Homo sapiens: one gene and its partner. The protein of the gene in region 2 interacts with the protein of the main gene of each other region in a biochemical or structural test. Each region holds a gene or a part of one and is shown on either strand. Other genes may lie near its edges. The genes, in order: ACACA and TRIB1.

Region 1 (7,179 bases), on a different chromosome or scaffold from region 2:
CAAGGCTACAGCGAGCCATGACCGCACCACTGCACTCCAGCCTTGGCGACAGAGCAAGACCCTGTCTCAAAAATAAATAAATAAATAAATAAACAGCTGGGCACGGTGGCTCACGCCTGTAATCCCAGCACTTTGGGAGGCCGAGGTGGGCGGATCACGAGGTCAGGAGATCGAGACCATCCTGGCCAACATGGTGAAACCCGTGACTACTAAAAATGCAAAAATTAGCTGGCATGGCAGCGTGTGAATGTAATCCCAGCTACTCAGGAGGCTGAGGCAGGAGAATTGCTTGAACTCGGGAGGCAGGGGTTGCAGTGAGCCGAGATCAGCCACTGCACTCCAGCCTGGTGACAGAGCTAGACTCCATCTCTAAATCAATGAGTGAATGAATGAATCAATCAATCAACTAATATCACTCTATTTTCAATTCATGAAAATACCTCTAATTAGGGAATAGCCCCAGGAACAAAGCTATAAGGTATACATGATCCAAGTGTGCTTTTCTCATAACTACAGATACTTATCCTTCACATACAGTACTTTCACTGTTGGGTTTGTACCCTGAGGCAGTTTTGTGAGGAATACAATGCTTAAAAGTATACAAGCACAACATCCAAAAAGTAAGGAGGATCCAAATAGGAAGGAATCCTACAACATAAACTCTGGCATTGGTAGCCAGAAAAAAATATAGTGTTATCCTATAAATACCTGCTGGCTGGGAAACTGACAGAGGACTGATGTGATGTTGCTAGCATACTGAGCCATTTCCTTCTTGATAGACTTCTCCACATTGGGGGGAATGCGGCCAGACACACTGGTCATAATATCTTGCAATTCTAGGAGAGGCAGGGAGGGATCTCTGAGGGTTTTCATCAATCGCTCTACCCAGTCTTTTACCTAGAAAGAAAGCATTGGTAAAATAGGACCCAAGTTAACACAATCCCCCAAATAAAAAGATATATAGTTGTCATTCTGTATACGTGGGAAATTGGTTCCAGAACCACCACTCATATATGAAAATCTGCACATACTTGAGCCCTACGGAACCCATGTATAGAAATAGTTGTGGGTTCCATATCTCATCAATACTGTAATTTTGATCCATGTTTGGCTGAAAAAATCCACATATAAGTGGACCCACACAGTTCAAACCTGTATTGTTCAAGAGTCAACTATATCTGAATTCACTATCATATACTACTTCTTTTCAATAAAAATTTATATAATTTTCAATAGATATGGGGTCTTGCTATGTTGATCAGGCTGGTCTCAAACTCCTGGCCTCAAGCGATCTTTCCATCTCAGCTTCCCAAAGTGGTGAGATTACAGGCGTGAGCCAACTATCATAGAGTACTTTGAAATTGCAACGTAAGCATCTAACATTGCCCCTATTCTCCAGTTTAAAAAGGACTAATCACGGGCGGGCACAGTGGCTCACGCCTATAATCCCAGCACTTTGGGAGGCCGAGGCGGGCAGATCACAAAGTCAGGAGTTCAAGACCAGTCTGGCCAACGTGGTGAAACCCCACCTCTACTAAAAAAAAAAAAAAAAAATTAGCCGCGCCTGGTGGCACGTGCCTACAATCCCCACTACTCAGGAGGTTGAGGCAGGAGAATCACTTGAACCCAGGAGGTGGAGGTTGCAGTCAGCTGAGTTTGTGCCATTGCACTCCAGCCTGGGCAACAGAGCAAGACTCCGTCTCGAGGAAAAAAAAAAAGGAGTAATCACAATTAAATGTGAAGTCCATGACAAGGATAAGAAACATGGATTTAAAGACCTCAAGTCCCACAACTGAAGGTGAAAGAGTTCTAGGCCAAACAGCTTTCTTTTCCTCCCTCTTAAACAATCATTATGAGACTTGGAACTATTTTGGAGAATAGGTATCCCATTTGTACATCCCTTCCCCAGGAGACGTGATACATACCTTGCTGCTAAAGAAAGGATCTGGAAGGCAGTATCCATTCATTACATTGACCAGATTATCCAGGACATAATGGAACACTCGATGGAGTTTCTCGCCTCTGAGTGCCGTGCTCTGGATCCGTGGCAGACTACCTGTGTGAAGTTCAGCCTGTCAACCCCAACAAGAGATCAAGTCATCTACTACTTTTGATCTAAGGTACAAACACACCACTGCACTTAAGAGTTATCATTCAAAATCGAGACATCATACCCAGCTACCAGGAGGGAAGTCAATAGAGGAAACATCATAAGGAAATTACAGAATCTTAGTACTACAGTAACTCTTGCAAACTCTAGTTCCATAATACTACAGGCACAAATACAAGGCATAAGATTAATAGGGGACAAAGCTAAAGAAAACACTGGCAAACCAAGCATTGAAATCACTTGCCTCTCCAAACCACCAAGTTCTTTAGCTCTTAGAGAGCAATATTCGGAGCACCTTCCTACTCACCTGCTGAACCTTGCTGGGGTTGTCCAGTTGCATTTTGGCTAGTACACAGCCAGGGTCAAGAGCTGCTCCAGGTCGCTTGACGTAATGGATACAGCCAGACTCCACAGCTGTTAAGGTCATTACCATCTTCATTACCTATAGTGAAAAATAAACTAGACTCAGATTTATCTCTCTTTACACAGATGAGTGCTTAAAAGAACTAAAATTTTTCCCTTAGCATCTAAGTTGGACCACACCTAATTTGACCAAGAAAAAATGGGAATTTACCATCATCTCCTAGGGACTATCAAGGCAAGCAATTAGAAAATCTCTCAGTACCTCACTTTAGGAATTAATAACAGTTATTGACATTTCTCCTTTCTAACTTTTACAACCATTTTGGCATAATTTGTGATTATATTTGTTTTGTACTTAGAAAGTAAGGAACAATTTAATATCCTCATACCAGTGAATCCAATCTAAGACAACCAGGCCAAAACCTAAGGATCATTCTTCACTCCTCTTTCTCCCTTACCTACCAATTACCAACCCAGCCAGACATATCTTCTAAACCTTTCTCAAAAATCTTCCTCTCTTGCCAACTCTTCGGTTTACGCCTTCTTCATTTCTGGCCCAAAGTACTTCAAAGACCCCCTAAGAGATCTCCCTACTTGCTACATACCTCCCTCAAGGTCACGAAAAGCAATCTTCCTAGACCCCAAATCTCATCATACTACTTTTCCACTTAAATCTTTCAGAGATTACCTGCTGCCTCCAGGATAGTGAAAACTTACTAGTATGGTTTATAAGATCCTTCATAACCTCACATTCAAGATCTCACATTACTTCTTTAGCACCTTTGCTTGTCCCTCCCCATTAAACCTTAGTCTATTCTCAAGCCACACCAACACATACTTGCAGTTCCCTAAATACACTGTGCTGTCTTGCTTCTGTCTTTGTACATGCTATTCCTTCAACTTTAAGCACTCTTCCCTGCCCTTCTTCACCTGCTCTATCACTATCTGTCTTTCAAAACTAAGATCAAATGTCTCTTCTTTCAGAATATCTTCCCATACAAGCTTAGCTTGATTTGGGTTAGGTGACCCTCTGCACTCTATGCTTAGCTCTCTTAAAATTAATCACATGACATTTCTTGTCTGTTTTGTGCCCCACCTCCATGTATTTTCTCTGGATAGCCAGCAGTTAGGACACCTAACATTCAACAAGTGCTATTGCCTAGTATCTATTTTTAGAACTAGAGATTCCTCATTTGCCTATGTGTTTTAAAAATCTTAAGGTTCGCACTTCTAATTAAGCCAACTGATGTTTCTTTTTCATTCTTATTTCCAATCTGTTACCTTTTTTTTTAATTTTTTAGAAATAGGGTCTTGATTTGTGACGCAGGCCACAAATTGTACCACTCCAGTACAGTGGTACAATCTCCATTCACTGCTGCCTTGAATTCCTGGGCTCAAGGGATCCTCCCGCCTTAGACACCAGAGTGGCTGGGTCTACAGGCATGTGCCACTGTACGCCGCTAATTTTTTAATTTTTCATAGAGATGGGGTCTCACCATCTTGCCCAGGCTAGTCTCGAACTCCTGGGCTCAAGCGATCTTCCTGCCTCAGCCTCCCAAAGTGGTAGGATTACAGGCACAAGCCACTGTGCCCAGCCTCCTTTCTGTAACTTTTCAGTCCTAGTCCATCCCAGCCGACCCTTTTCCTACCTTCCCCTCCCATGATCCCACAGTCCTTTCACCACCCTGACCTCAATCTCAGCATAGCACTGGCCGGCAAACACATGACCTCCATCTTCTACAATGTACTGGATTAACTTCCCAGCAGAAGGTGAGCGCATCACCGATGGGTCATTTTCCTTCTCAAACACACAGGTTTTATTGCCAATTGTGATGCGATATCTAGGAGACAAGTGGAAGTATGTAAGCTAAGAAAGCACCTCAGGATGTAAAGGAGAATGGTAGAGAATGTCAACCTTCAAAGAAAAAAAATCCTGAAAACTTTATTATACACACACACAGACATATTCACTGCATATTTGTTTACAATGTCAATTAACATAAATTTCCTTCAATAAGGATCAGATTAAATATAGTATAATCATATAATGGAATACCACATGACTATTAAAAATAACAGGTACCACCATTTAAAAAAACACACACAAAGATATTGATGACGTAATAGCTAACATTTCTTGAAGCCTAGCTATGTTGTGGCAATGTTCTACACATTTTCAACATGTTAATTTATTTCATTCTCATAACACCATAACTGGTGTTGAACATTTGTGAATTTCTTTTTTTTTTGATACGGAGTTTTGCTCTTGTTGCCCAGACTGGAGTGCAATGGCGTGATCTCGGCTCACCGCAACCTCCACCTCCCAGGTTCACGTGATTCTCCTGCCTCTGCCTCCCAAGTAGCTGGGACTACAGGCATAAGCCACCACATCTGGTTAATTTTGTATTTTTAGTAGAGACAGGGTTTCACCACATTGGCCACACCGGTCTTGAACTCCCAGCCTCAGGTGATCCACCTGCCTCGGCCTCCCAAAGTGCTGGGATTACAGGCGTGAGCCACCGCGCCCAGCCACATTTGTGAATGTATTTAAAGAAAAACAGTATGTACATGAGTGTAACTTGTATATGCATATAAAATTTCTACTCAAATATGTAAGAAACTTTTAACAATGGTTACTTATAAAAAGGGGAACTTATTTTTCATTGTCCACATACACTGGAGTGGTAGGGAGACATGTTTTTAATTATAAACACTTTAATACTCTTGATATTTTTGTTAAGTGCATGTACTATTTTTTTTTTTTTTAACTACAAATGAGTACCAAGAAAAGCCTGGGAAAATCCCAAGAGCTAGTAGCTAATAAGAGAAAAGGCTAACAGGATGACCAGCAAATGGACCTCAAACAGCCACTTACCTATCCACTTCCTCTTTCATATACGTAGTATAACTGCTGCCATCATAGGACAAGAGCAGTCCACCGTCACTCAGCCGATGTACATCTACTTCTACACATGAGCCATTCATGATCACCACATAGGAGTTGGGGGACTGTCGAGTCACCTGTAGGGAATGAGAATGAGGATCAGTGTGTCCCTTCCAGGTACAGCTCCAAATGAAATTTGAATGCTTCAAAAATACAGATAAGAAAGATCTGTCAGGAGGAAGAAAATTCATGGCACTGATGCTATTTGCATCAGTGTCTGTGGACATGGCTCAGTCCTGCTGTAAGCAAAGAGGGCAACCTTAGTTGATTTTCCCCAACTGTGGTTGTTCTCTGTCTCTCCTTTATCTCTTGGCAGTGTATGTGAAGTTGAAGAACAACAAAAAAGATTTTCATAGAACAACAAACGCTGCTTCAGGACACTGACAAAAATAATGACGGTAATTTCACTAATACCCCCATCCCTGCATTAAATCAAACTTTTTCTCCTGCCTCTCAACCTAAAGAAAGATAGCTAAAAAAGTAAGGTGCAAGCTCCAATGGGGTTCTGCATACCTTAAGTACATACTTGACTCCCTCATAGATAAGTTCAACATCTACTGTATTCAGAAGTGTATGAGCAGGAAGGACTTGACCCCTGAAAGAACGATGAGAGAGGAACTTACTACAAAGTTCTAACAGTTATAAGAGAATCTAAAACATTATTGATTGTAGCATTTCCTAGAATAACAAAAGACTAGAAACAACCTAAATACCTAAATGATCGTTTGTAAGGAATTGATCACATCAATTATGAATCTTACAATGGATTTTTTTAAATTAGGGTAAAATACACATTACATTAAATTTGCCATCTTAACCATTACAAAATGCACAGTTCTATAGTGTTGGGGATATTAACACTATTCTGCAACCAATCTGCAGGACTTTTTCAACTGGCAAAAGTGAAACTCTACACCCATTAACAACTCCCAATTTCGCCCTCCCCCCAGTTCCTGGTAACCGTCATTCTACTTTCTAGTTCTATGAGTCTGACTACTCTTCATACTTCATATAAGTAAAACCATATAGTATTTGTCTTTTTGTGACAGGCTTAATTCACTTGCCCTAATGTCCTTAAGATCCACCTATGTTTTAGCATGTGTCAGAATTTCCTTCTTCTTTAAGGCTGAATAATACTGTATTGTATGTATATGCCACATTTTGTTTATCCAGTCATCCATCAACCAACATCTGAGTTGCTCCCATCTTTTAGCTACTGTGAATAATCCTCCTATGAATGTGGCTGTGCAAGTATCTTTCAGACCCTGCTTTCAATTCTTTCAGAATACCCAGAAGTGGTATTACCAGATCATAGGGTAATTCTATTTTTAATTTTTTCAGTAATTGCAATACCATTTTTCAATAGTGGCTGCATCATTTTACATTCCCATCAAGAGTGCACAAGTGTCCCAATTTCTCTACGTACTTGCCAATACTTGCTATTTTCTGTTTTTTGACAGTGGGCATCCTAATGGGTGTGAGGTGGTATCTCATCATGGTTTTGATTTTATTTACTTAATGATTAGTGATGTTGCGCATGTTTTCACATGTGGAACAAAACATACAGACATTAAAAAGATGTGAACTAAAAAACACTTTAAAAAATATACTGTTGAGTTAAAAAAGCAAGGTAAATAACAGCTTCACAGCATGCTACCATTTGAGTTTTAAAAAACCAGGAGGTGGGAAGAAACAAATATTGCATGTTGATATGGTTCGGCTGTGTTCCCACTCAAATCTCATCTTGAACTGTAGCTCCCAT
Region 2 (5,725 bases):
AATGAAGAGGGATTGGTTCACAATCGGAAGTCCCATGATGCCTTCAGAGATCTGTGTGAACCTCTGCAATGATAACAAAATTTTGTTTTATACATGTGACACTGTTCTCAGGAGTGGTCATAGCTTTATCAAATTCTCAAGGGTCCACGGCCCAAAAAAGACAAGCTGATTTTTACAACTCAAGGTTAATTTATGAATGCTCACCTTCAAACGTTTCTTGATTCTGATTCTGCTATGAAAGAGTATAAAAAATAAAAAATGTTTCCCGAGTCTAAATTCAACCCAAAGCACGTATCAACACCCAATGGGCTTCATCCATCAAAATAAATTTGCCCACTGAAATGAGAAAAGCAAATGGGTTCAAGTCTGCCAAAGGTCATCGATGATCCTCATCATCTCTACTTTTCCACCTTCCCCTTGCTGCTCACCCCCAACTAGACTGTAAGTCCTGAGGCCAGAGACCTTTGCAACCTCTGCATGAAATTGCAAAAGGCAAAGCAGATGGAACTCGAAAGAAATTCACCACACCTATTTACGAAACCAGGTTTATTAAAATTTCTCTACAAGTCAGAAACGGCCATCTCACTGTTCACATATATACACGTATGTACAGGAAGAACCTAGTGTTTCTAGCTTTCCCGGCAGAAGGCCCTGCCAGCCCAGAGTCCTTAGTCGGATAATGTATCACAGATACAACAGTCGAGCAACCACGAGAGCGTTAGTGCGACAGAGGCCTCTGTCCTCCCTCTTCTCAAAGTCCCATGATTCTGTCAAGGTAATATTGCCAATAATCATTCACATTTCACGTGGTTTTAGACACGCAGGTTATTCAGACAGACACAGACAACAAAACAAGCCTCAAAGCCAGAACAAAACAAAACAAAACAAAATCGAACATAGGTATAAAAGGTAAAATATATGTACAAAGTACACAGTACGTGAGGTATACACGGCATTCTCACAATGCATGTTAGTAGTTTGCCTAGGCATAGCCCTTAAAGATGACTGCCTGTTTTTGTGCCATTTCTCAAAATACAGTATATTTTGTTTACCCGTTTAACCACCTGATTTCAGCACTGTCCAAGACAGTTACTGATATTTCATCTGAATTTGTTTTTTAATGAAAGTTGCAATTTCTCCATTAAGCTCCATCTTTTGTAGGGGAGTGAGTTTCCATCTCTGGACATATCTAACAGAGGCTGGATTCCCACCTACAAAAGAAGCTGAAGAGGGGATTTCTGCCTTGGGAGGTGGCAGAAAGAGGAAAGAGATTGGACCGGATGATTTTTAAAGTTCCTTCCAACTTTGAAGATTTGGGGTTTGCTGTTTCACTCCAGAAGCCGATTATACAGACGTATTCATAAACCACACATTTGAAATATTAACAACCCACCATGCAAAACTGCAGATGTACACACAATGCCAAAGGCGGACCATATCTGGGAGGGGTTAAAGTATAATTCTGGAAGTTAGTCTGAGAATCACAAGACTATCCAAAATTCACTCTCTTCAAAGCACAAAGATGTTTAATGTCTGCTCTTGGGAGAGGTGGGTGGGAGCCTCCTTATCTTTCTTCTCTTAGACAGAATGCTCCACCCTGAGATGGTCTTGGGGAAAAAGTAAAGGGTAGGTACTAACATATTTGGAAGGAACTTAAAAAGCTAATAGTTTCCAAGCACTCAAATTATTTTTTAAAATCTGGAGTCTCTCTGAGCTCAGAGTTCTGAAATCGTTGGGAGATGGAATCTTTTGTGATACTGTTCCACGTTCGGCTGGTAAGTGCTTTTATAGCTAAAGGGGGAAGTGTCAAGGTCAGGGAGAAGGCATTAGTGCAGATGAGGTCTTGGCAGGAAACAGAGAAGAGTCTCGGTTCATGGTTCCATCAGGCTCCTGAGCAACTTAAAACAGTCTGCTCCAAAAACGGAGCAGAGTCATTGGTAAATGTGAGTGTGAAGAAAGGGTGAGTGTTAAGCCAAAAAAGGAACTTTCCCATCAGAGAAGCTGCCGTAGCAGTCTAGCCACCAAAGATGAGTTCAAAGATGGCAGATTTATTGGCCCAATTTGTCACCCTGTGAAAAATACGGTTATTACTCAAAATATGTCATTGTGCGATTTGCTTTTTCTCCCATTCGAATGCTCAAGTTTATTACACACTTGACCACCGGGTGTAAGATGTCCATACTCTGCCCTCCACAAAAGATGCGGAACTCCCAAATCCAGCAGAGATAGTTGGTGAGGGTTCCTTAAGGGAAACAAATTTGCAGGGCAGCCAATCACAGCATATGCTGCTCAAATCAATAAAGTCACTCATCCCAACAGAGAAGAGGAGGCGCCATGCCGAGTTCAGCAGCTTTCATCCTGATGCAGTCATTATCTGGTTGGTACCACGCCAAAGGGCCTGTCCATCTTTAGAAATGGAAATGCCAGGTGTTAAGAATTATGAGGTTTCTGAGGTTTTGGGGATTAGCAGAAGAAGGAACTAATGTCACTGTCCTCCTGGTACTCTGGAACAATCTGGTCTGAAGTTCCTATTTCTGAGTCGATGTACCCGGGTTCCAAGACGGACTCAAACCAGGGGTGCAGTAGGATCTCGGGGGCAGTGAGTCTCTCGGAGGGCTCCCGTCTCAAGAGGCTGCGAATGAGGCACCTGGCTTTGGGGGAAATGTGCTCAGGAATGCAGAACTGTCCACGCCGAATTTTGGAGAAAAGGGCACTGGGGTCTGAGTCATGGAAGGGGTATCGTCCAACCAGAAGGGTGTAGAGCATCACCCCCAGGCTCCAAACGTCCGCAGCCTTTCCGGAGTAGGTCCCAGTGGTGTTGAGGATCTCAGGGCTCACGTAGGCTGGGCAGCCATGTTTGTCTGACAAAGCATCATCTTCCCCCTTCATTATGTGTGTGTCTTCTAGACTTTCTAGTCTAAGCTGGGTTCTGCAAGAGAGAGGAACCAAGCCATTATTTCCACACCAGCTGCTATGAAAAACAAAGCCTTCCCAATAACAGCGCCCACAGGCACTAACAGCAAAGGCTCCAGGAATGCTATTTACCCCTTCGTCCAGTAAGCAGTGCCCTGCAACTACCGAGGGCTCCTGATTTCACAAACTAACACGAACTGCAATAAATGTTTGCAAAGTATCGGCAGAGCGCCTGGGGTGGAGGGTATGAGGCAAAGCCCCAAATAGTATTCATAATGCTGGAGCTTACAAGAGATATCCTAATAGGAGTTACGCAATTTACTAAGTTCCCATTGCAGAACTGGGAGCCTGTCTCAGAATGCTGCATTCTCTACAAAAGCTAGCAGGGAAGAGCAGCATATCCTACTTCTTCAGAGAGGGCCTGAGCATCCTACGAACCCATCTTCCCTCTTATGACTGCCAGGGCTACCTGGACCCACACTGCATTACAGAACACGGAGCCCAAAGTCACTGCTATTACACACAGGTCATCAGCGCTGGTGCCCACACTGATACATGCACACAGAGCAAACTTTGTCCTCCTGGGCCCAGGCTGCAACAATTAGGATGGGAAAGTTGCAAGGAATGTTAATTACATTTATTGGGGTGTTTAACTGCAAAGAACACTTTGCCTGGACAGAGAGGTTATGCGAGCAAACAAAAGTGGCTGATGGATTTCAGGGACGCAGGGACCCTGAAATTCTTACACAGGGACACACACTCCCCCTGGGATGGCACATCAACATGTGAGCATATGTATTCTACAGGGGGGGTCTCTGTTCAGGTAACAACGAAAGTCTAAAACACCTTCAGTCAAAGGCTCTCTTATGAAGCTGCAGGTGCCTCCTTATTCAGAACCAGCCACCCAAGTCTCCTGGATCCCCCAAAGCTCAAAGCCATGTGGTGGGGAAGCTCTGATATCCAGTGACACCCTGTCTCTGCCTGCTTCTCTGAAATACCCGTTTCAGTAAGTCACTTGTGAAGTTAAATGCAAACATTTGGTACTGGCTGATGGGTCAATTCCTTTTCCTCTCAAAGGTCTGTTTTTTTTTTTTTCTGCCTTCCTGTTCCCTGGAGTGTAGTATACATGTGCTAACTTCAGTATGTCCTCAGCGTGACCTCCCTGTCGTTATGTAAAATACCCATTGGTTCTGTAAACGGAAAATATGACTCAACCCACACTGTCTGCCCCTGATTGGCTGCTACAGCACTAAAACCCTGCACCTGTGCTGGTTACACGAATAGCGTCAGCCTGACATTGCTTAACCCCCGGGTTGCCAAACCCCATGCCCATGATATTCGCCTGTGCAATGCAGATTTCAAAAGCTAGTAAGGAGGTGTGTAAGGCATGTTTCAGAAAATGCATCACCATATCAAAGGAGCATGTTCCAGGAATTAGAAACTTCTTCATTGCCAACAGTTTGCTTTTCTTTGCTAATCAGTGTGTTCCAATAATTATTGCGAGGTCAGATACAAAGTCATGCTTTATGACAGCTCAACCCTGTACTGTTTCATATGCTCTGGAGTCAAAGGTAAAAATGCACAGGTGAGATAAGCCCACTTCTTACAACAAACTAACTCACTCTCACCTCTACAATGTTACAGCCTTACTGCTTGTAATCTTTCCACAAGGGATGTGGCTGGCTCTTAAAATCAAGTGTGGTCTATCTCATGCGGCTTCCTGAATTCTCTAGCTGAAACCTCAGCTTTGAATCTTAATGCCTCATTACTCTCTTATCAAGCTCATCTTGTTCTTTATGAGGTAAGCTATGATCTATATTTAGCAATCCATCCTAACCAACTTCCATTTACTATTCAATGTGGCTATTTTCTGAAGACGGATCCAAACAAGCTGTCTAAAAAGTCACCAGAGAATGTGATGTTACAGAGAACCTGGACTGGGATGGGAGAGGAATGCTGTGTGAAACAAGAGGGTGGAATTCTGCATATATGACAGTCTCACTAGCTCTGTGAAACCTTCCAGGTACAAAACAGCACTTGGCATAAGCAAAGATTTGAACACTTCCTTCAGAAGGCAATATCGTAAAGGGCAGTTTAATATTTGTACCCCAGACAACTGACCTTTCTGACAACAATGGGGAATGAACCTGATCCTGGGGTAGGAGAGGAAGAGCACCCTGTCAACACTTGCCATCCCATAGAAGCGCCACGGTGTCCCCAGGCCCCGTCCAAGAGAATGCAGAATAAACCAACCTTGGCTGTGACTCCTCAGGAACAGAAGCTCTAAATACTAAATCTGGGACATATGAGCCCTTGACTTTGTTTTGCACCAACACACAGCACCTAACTACATGACCTGCACCTCCGCTTTGGTTCCAAAAGGCCACAGGAGAAGCTGTGGCGGCCGCTCACCTCTCCTCCGTGGAGAAGACGAACTTCCTAAGCTTCAGGTCCCCCAGCACGATGGCTGACTGGTGGCAGTGGGCGACGGCGGAGACAATCTGCTTGAAGAGCCGGGCGGCTTCCTCTTCCCGCAGCCTCTTCCGGCTTCGCACATAGGAGTGCATGTCCCCAAAGTCCTTCTCAAAGAAGACATAGGCCTTGGTTTCCCCAAGGATCACTTCCACAATGCCAGTAATGTTGCTGTGCGATGGCAGCTGGATGTAAGGCCTGATTTTGTCCTGGTAGTGTTTAATGGGAAACACCTGTAGAGAGAAGGGGGGCCCGTTTAGGGGGCTAGAAAAGCAAAGGCAGCCTCCCAAACCCCTGAGGGAGCTGAACAGAAGTTCTCAACCTGTGGGCTTAGGATGTG

Evidence for each region.
Region 1: the proteins of TRIB1 (region 2) and ACACA form a complex in vitro, tested with the Homo sapiens proteins (one study listed by BioGRID).

Annotation. Positions count from the first base shown.
Region 1 is NC_000017.11:37,242,663-37,249,841, forward strand, and holds part of ACACA (acetyl-CoA carboxylase 1), read right to left. Parts: intron 6,013-7,179; coding exon 5,931-6,012; intron 5,495-5,930; coding exon 5,349-5,494; intron 4,315-5,348; coding exon 4,164-4,314; intron 2,553-4,163; coding exon 2,418-2,552; intron 2,314-2,417; exon of another isoform or gene 2,139-2,313; intron 2,073-2,138; coding exon 1,926-2,072; intron 898-1,925; coding exon 709-897; intron 1-708. UniProt on the Homo sapiens protein: Cytosolic enzyme that catalyzes the carboxylation of acetyl-CoA to malonyl-CoA, the first and rate-limiting step of de novo fatty acid biosynthesis.
Region 2 is NC_000008.11:125,433,210-125,438,934, reverse strand, and holds the end of TRIB1 (tribbles homolog 1), read right to left. Parts: intron 5,619-5,725; coding exon 5,326-5,618; intron 2,930-5,325; coding exon 2,464-2,929; 3' UTR 532-2,463; downstream 1-531. UniProt on the Homo sapiens protein: Adapter protein involved in protein degradation by interacting with COP1 ubiquitin ligase. The COP1-binding motif is masked by autoinhibitory interactions with the protein kinase domain.